Homo sapiens: one gene and its partner. The gene in region 1 interacts genetically with each later gene. Each region holds a gene or a part of one and is shown on either strand. Other genes may lie near its edges.

What was found. A genetic interaction does not mean that the proteins touch.
Region 2: changes in EGFR (region 1) and PRIM2 together harm fitness more than expected from each alone (negative genetic interaction), as found in Homo sapiens cells (one large-scale study listed by BioGRID).

The regions. Positions count from the first base shown.
Region 1 is NC_000007.14:55,025,517-55,029,177, reverse strand, and holds part of EGFR (epidermal growth factor receptor isoform a precursor), read right to left. Parts: intron 1-3,661. UniProt on the Homo sapiens protein: Receptor tyrosine kinase binding ligands of the EGF family and activating several signaling cascades to convert extracellular cues into appropriate cellular responses.
Region 2 is NC_000006.12:57,642,627-57,645,147, reverse strand, and holds part of PRIM2 (DNA primase large subunit), read right to left. Parts: intron 1-2,521. UniProt on the Homo sapiens protein: Regulatory subunit of the DNA primase complex and component of the DNA polymerase alpha complex (also known as the alpha DNA polymerase-primase complex) which play an essential role in the initiation of DNA synthesis.

The sequences.
Region 1 (3,661 bases):
ACCACTTTTTTTTTGTTTTTTGACTGAGTCTTGCTCTGTCGCCTAGGCTGGAGTGTAGTGGTGTGATCTCAGCTCACTGCAACCCCTGCCTTCCAGGTTTAAGTGATTCTCCTGCCTCAGCCTCCTGAGTAGCTGGGACTACAGGCACGTGCCACCGCACCCAGCTGTTTTTTTTGTATTTTTAGTAGAGGCGGGTTTCACCATGTTGGTCAGGCAAGTCTCAAACTCCTGACCTTGTGATCCGCCCGCCTCGGCCTCTGAAAGTGCTGAGATTACAGGCATGAGCCACTGAGCCCAGCCAACCATCTTTTGTTTATCTGTCATATGTTTGGACTTAATCAAAAGTGGATGACATCTGACATTGGGGTTCCAGGGTTTTTGTTACCTATAAACAGATAATTGCTTAACTTTCTAATAATATATTAAAATATACTTTATTTTAAAAATCTAGTTGGAGCCATTAGATCTTGCAAGTTAGCACTAGAACAAACTTAAAATAGTTTGTCTAGTTTATCTTGTTCGGCACAATTTGAAGCATTTACAATGGCTTACAGTGTATGAGAATGAACTAGGAGATAATTTTGTAAGTGAATAGAAACCATTGTAATAAAATCTCCTGAAAGCTTTCAGGTATTCAATGATTGCTGGTAAATAAACAAAACCAGGTTTTTGAAATTAAAAAAATGTTTTTGAAAAAGTTTCTAAAATTTGGTATACAATGATCAGAAAATCTCAGGACACCTTTGCCTGTCCTTAAGGACCTGCACAAATTCACTAAGTGGTTTGTTTTTATTCCAGCACTAAAATAATGGATAATTTGAGTATCAGCAGAGACACTAAAACATGCACAGTTTTTCACATACAAATGCCAGTTTGTCTTATCAGAGAGACTATGTGCAATGCATCAATTTTATCCAAAACCTGGAGTAAAGGAAAGAAATTTTAGCAAAGGGTTGTAATGACATCATAAGTAAAACGATAGGACTGCTAAAACAATCATGACGTCATCTGCTGTGCACTGGCCTGCAAGCATGTAGTGGTAAAATCGTCAGATATCACATTTCTGCTTATAAAATAAAATCCTTCATGAATGCTCTTAAAACAACTGCAAAGCAAGCAGTGGTCTTTACCTCCATATGTGTGTGTGTGTGTATATATATATATATATATATATATATATATATATTTTTTTTTTTTTTTTTACATAAAGGCATGAATATACAAGGTAATGTCAGCAGCTGTACTCCACTCTTTATTTGTTGCAAATCTACCTATTTGTTTCCAAAGGATGTCTGCAAATAAATAGGTAACATTGTACAGCTTTCAACAGTGGATCAGAACATAGATGTCTCTTCTAATTCACAAGTACCAATGGCTCAATTAATTTAAGGGACATTTTCTGAGTTGTGTGATTTCACATGTATTTATCGTGTCTAGAACTGTGCAAACTTTTGTTTCATTTCTCTCTTAGATTTCTGTAGGAAGAGTTAAAGGATGTGAAGTAGTCATTTTACTTATTCATAACACATTTTAGGGAAAATTGTGCTGTTGCTGTTGGGGAGAAAGTTAAAGCTATCAACTATAACCTGGACTCCAGTCCAATTTTTCACATCTGGTTGCTACTTTTAAAAAGGATCATTTTAATTTTTAAATGCAGAATGTGTTGCACTTTATCTTTGACATTCCAGGTTTCCTCATGGTCATTTAGAAAAATAAAGCAGGAAATTCTAATGCCTTAGCATCTACTTTAATAAGATGTTTGCATTTATAAAAATAACAAGAAACTGAGGGTTTTGCTGAAGGAGCACAGGGCCTACAAGTATTTCCTCATTCCTGTCCCTGTGCCTGGAGGCCCAGCTAAGCATTCTGTTTCTGAGAAACTCCCCTTGTCACAGAGGCTGAATTAGTCAGTCCCTCTTTTGGGCTCCCACTGAAATCCCAAATCACATCTGTTATAAAACATTGCATTACAGGGAGTGATCTTGTATGTGTCTCTCTTTCTCAGCCCTTCCAAAAGGTAAGTCGGTCCTCAGAGGACAAGTGCAGTTATTTTGTTCCCTTGGTGTATCTAGATCCCAGCATGCGATGTGCCTGGAGTATATCAGCAGTTCTCAAAATCTGGCATGCATCAGTCAGAATCTCCCTGAGGACTTGTGTGCACAGACCGGGGCCTGCCCTTCCAGTGTCTTACTCAGAGGCCAGGGTGGGGTCCAAGAGTGTGCATCTCCAACAGGTTCTCAGGTGCTGCTGCCATGCTGGGCCCGCTGAAAGCCACTGCAGAAAGCTTTTTTTTTTCCCTTTTTTTTTTTGGCAGTTAAAGAGAGGTTTTCTTTAGTTAAAACCTGGGAGGCACTCCTGGTGAATTTTGGTCAAGAGCGCTTTCTCTTACAGACTAGGAGTATATATTGGTTTTAGGGTGAGGGAGATTATCAGAATTTTGGAATGTTCCTGTTTGAGGGAGAAGTTTTATGGCAGGGTTGGAATATCTCTGGGAGGAGGCAAGTTTATCTTGGGGCAGGCATCTTTCCGGCCAGAGAGAGGTTATCCCGAGACTGGCATCTTCCCTGCTGGAGGGGGGTTATCTCGGGACTAGCATGTCTCTGGTCGAGGAGGAGTTTCGAATGTTTCCGGTTGGAGATGTTATTTGTGGTTTATGGTCATGCTGACCTTAGCCATTAGGCTGATGCAGTTTGAATTTAGGCAGTTTTTTATTAAGGTGAACTTTAGAATGAGGGGCTTGTCCAAGATGGCGATGCTCCTGCTCTGTCGAGCCAGACCCTATAGTTATAAAAAGGAGGAGGGGTGGAGTGTTCTTTCTGGCTATTTCCTCACTGCAGGAAACTTTTAATGGACTAACTTGTGAAATAAAATGTGACTCTGGAACTGATTTACTAATGAAATATGCAACTGTTTCTGGATCTCGAAGGAGCTCATGAGATGAGTAAGAAATGGGGGTCTGAGAGCAAAGACAAGATTTCTTTCGTTACGAGCTACATACAACATGTAATCCACTCCTCAGAATTGCCAAGGGAGCTTTAAGAAATGTGTGTGTGCCAGGCTCCATTCCCCAGAAATACTGATTGTCCTGGTCTGGGGCACAGTAAGGCACCCTCTTTTTCAAAAGCCCCTCAGCTGGTTAGAAAGCATGGTCAAGGTTCAAAAGCTACTGCTTTAAGAAAAAAGAAAAAAAATCATCTCCTACTTTTTTTGGTTCAGCCACTAGCGTACAAAACCAAGTAATGTGATGTGGTCTTAAGCAGGGAACAAGAGATCCCCATTCCGAGTATTTGCAGCAATATATAAACATGACTTCTGGTACACTTATATGCACAATATATTATATTACCAGTTGCTGATAACTGCAACTAATCAGCTGCTGACTATAGCAGCCTCACCTAGAGAGAAGCTGGTATCCAGAACCCCTGGTGTGGCTCAATTTCGATGCTGACGGTGAGCATGAGACAGGTGGAGCCAGGAAACTGTGAGAGGAGAACTTGTTCTGTGATCTAAGACAAGTAACTGACACGGAAATATGTGAGCAAATGACAACTCAAGCCACATTGCTCTCCTGTGCTCTGGACCACCGTATTCTACTGCCTCCTGGACTTCTCCATCTGAGCACTTCAAGCTCAACACATCTAAAAGCTGAATATTGATATTG
Region 2 (2,521 bases), on another chromosome or scaffold:
TTTTAGAGCTGACTTGTAAGTCTGGCATATGCACTCATTTAGTATGATATAAACTGAAAAAGCAACCTAAGTCAATGTAATTCTTCATTCTAATCTTGGCCTTTCCTTGGTCTTTTTACAGAAAATCTCTTCTTGTAAATTTCACTGTGACTGAATACAAACATGCCTGGTTCATAACTTATGTTATTTTTTCTCAAATACTATCATTAAACTTTAATTTTGAGTATCATTTCAAATTATGCACTCTAGTAATCTCTCCTTATATTCAGTTTCACTTTCCACAGTCTCAAATCCCTGCCTTCTCGCCTTCTGCAGTTGGAGTTGACAACAAAAATATCATTTTGCTTGAGTGAGTGACTGTTGGTTTCTTGGGTGGTATTTTCATTTATCAAGTTTTTGGAAACTGAGAAGTTATTCCATTTCTTTTGTTCATCTGTCTTGTATTAACTAATCCTTTTACGTCTCACTCTTCGTACTGAAGTGACTTGCACACTGTAGGTATCTAATAAATATTTGGTGAAGTGAACCCAGAAATAGTGTATACCAGTGATAATTTTGCATATTTAATTAAAGCCTTACTATATAAAAGACTGTGTTATAAACTATTCACTATTCAGCATACAGGAATACATTTGACTAACTCAAATTTCCAACCCAGTAAGTCATATACTTAAAAACCTCTACCAAGAATGGAGAACTGATGAGGGTCACAGATAAAGGCCTATTACACTCCACAGTAGAGAGAAATTTCGGCTGAGGAGATCAAGGAAGGCTTTGTAAGAGGAGTGCTATTTGAGTTGCGTCTGGAAAGATGGAGAGGGTGAAAAGCTGGGATGATGAGGGGAAAGGCAATATTTGCAGCAGGACCACATGAGCAAGGTAAAGAGGGAATGTCCTGGGAAAGCAAATATTAAATAGTTCACATAGCCTACTATGAAAGGCACATACAAGGAAACAATAAGGAATGAGGTTGGAAAGACAGGCAGGGGCCAGCCTGAGAGAGCCTTGAAAATCAGGGTAAGTGGTCAAGACCTAATTCTCTAGGCAACACAGAGTCACCAAAAACCCTTAAAAAGAGACGTGGTGTGATTAAAGCTATGTATAATCTTTTAGTAGATTAAAATGAATTGGCCAGGGAAAAAGGGGTTGCTGCCATGGTCTAGAATGAACCCTACTGGTGGACGGACCAGCAGACAGAAACATGAGTCTTTTCTGGTAATACTTATCTAAGCACCCTAGGAATCTCTGATTCTCTTTTGCTAGTTGTTAATACATGTTAGGCTAATTTTATAGTAATTCCAGTGTGTAACAGATGGATAGTATACAGACTGATTTTAAGAGTTATAGATCATTAAGAACAAATTTTTATCTTTGCTTCATTTTTTTAACTTAGCTGCTTGATTTCAAAATGTTTCTGAAATGTTTTATAATTTTTATTAACAATGGAATCATTTGTGAACTTTTTTATTACATTCAATTTTCACCCAATTCATTAAAAACTGGGAAATCCAATATAAATTTTGCATTTTGCAATGTGTTTCACAAAAAGTATGTTTATTGTCTAATACATTTTAATCAGAAGGCTTTACAGTTTGTAAAATAGTTTGTAAACAGAGAATCAGAGATTAGAAAGACCTTGGGGAATCCATTAAATTCAATCTCCTCCATGTACAGAGGCCTAAGGAGAATAGATGGTTTATTCAAGGTCATAGAATTAGTAACTGGTTTTGTCTGAATTAAAATTCAGGCCTTCTGACTAGATCATTAGTTGCTCTGAAATCTGTTTTAAGAGATTGTATGCAAAATCATACTGATAATGATATCTCCATTATAAATTTTATTTCTAGAGATAAACTTGGCTACAAAGATTAGAAAAACATAGTTGTACTATTTCATGCAAAAATAACCTAGTATCTTATGCTATAATAATATCTTGGCATTTTCTATACCTCGCTTCAAGTTGTCAGTTAGCAATACATTTATTAGACTTCAATGTGCACAAAATAGGGTAATCTTTTTAAAGTCTGATTTTCTCCATCTATGAAATGGAGATAACAGTGTTAGGTCATAGGGTTGCCATGGGAAAAGTAAATAAAAATGAATGTTAAAAAAAATTGTTCTATGAAATCTAAATAAAATGTTTTTAAAGAGTCAAGAAAAGCAAGTCACTTAAAAAAAAGGTGAAAGTCACAGAAGGAGAGGGAGAAAGATCCTATTGCTTTGCATATATCAAGTTCCTTTTCTACTTTAAGGAATCCAAACTGGAAATTGCTGATGCTGTATTATGGGTATAGTTTATAAAAGAAAGATAAAATCAAATTCCAAACACTAAACGATACTCAAAAGACCCTGCCCTAACTAATAAATGGCATTTAAATGACTTAACTTTAAGATATAATATTTAAGGGGCTGGGCGTGGTGGCTCACGCCTGTAATCCCAGCACTTTGGGAGGCCGAGACGGGCGGATCACGAGGTCAGGAGATTGAGACCATCCTGGCTAACACGGTGAAACCCCGTCTC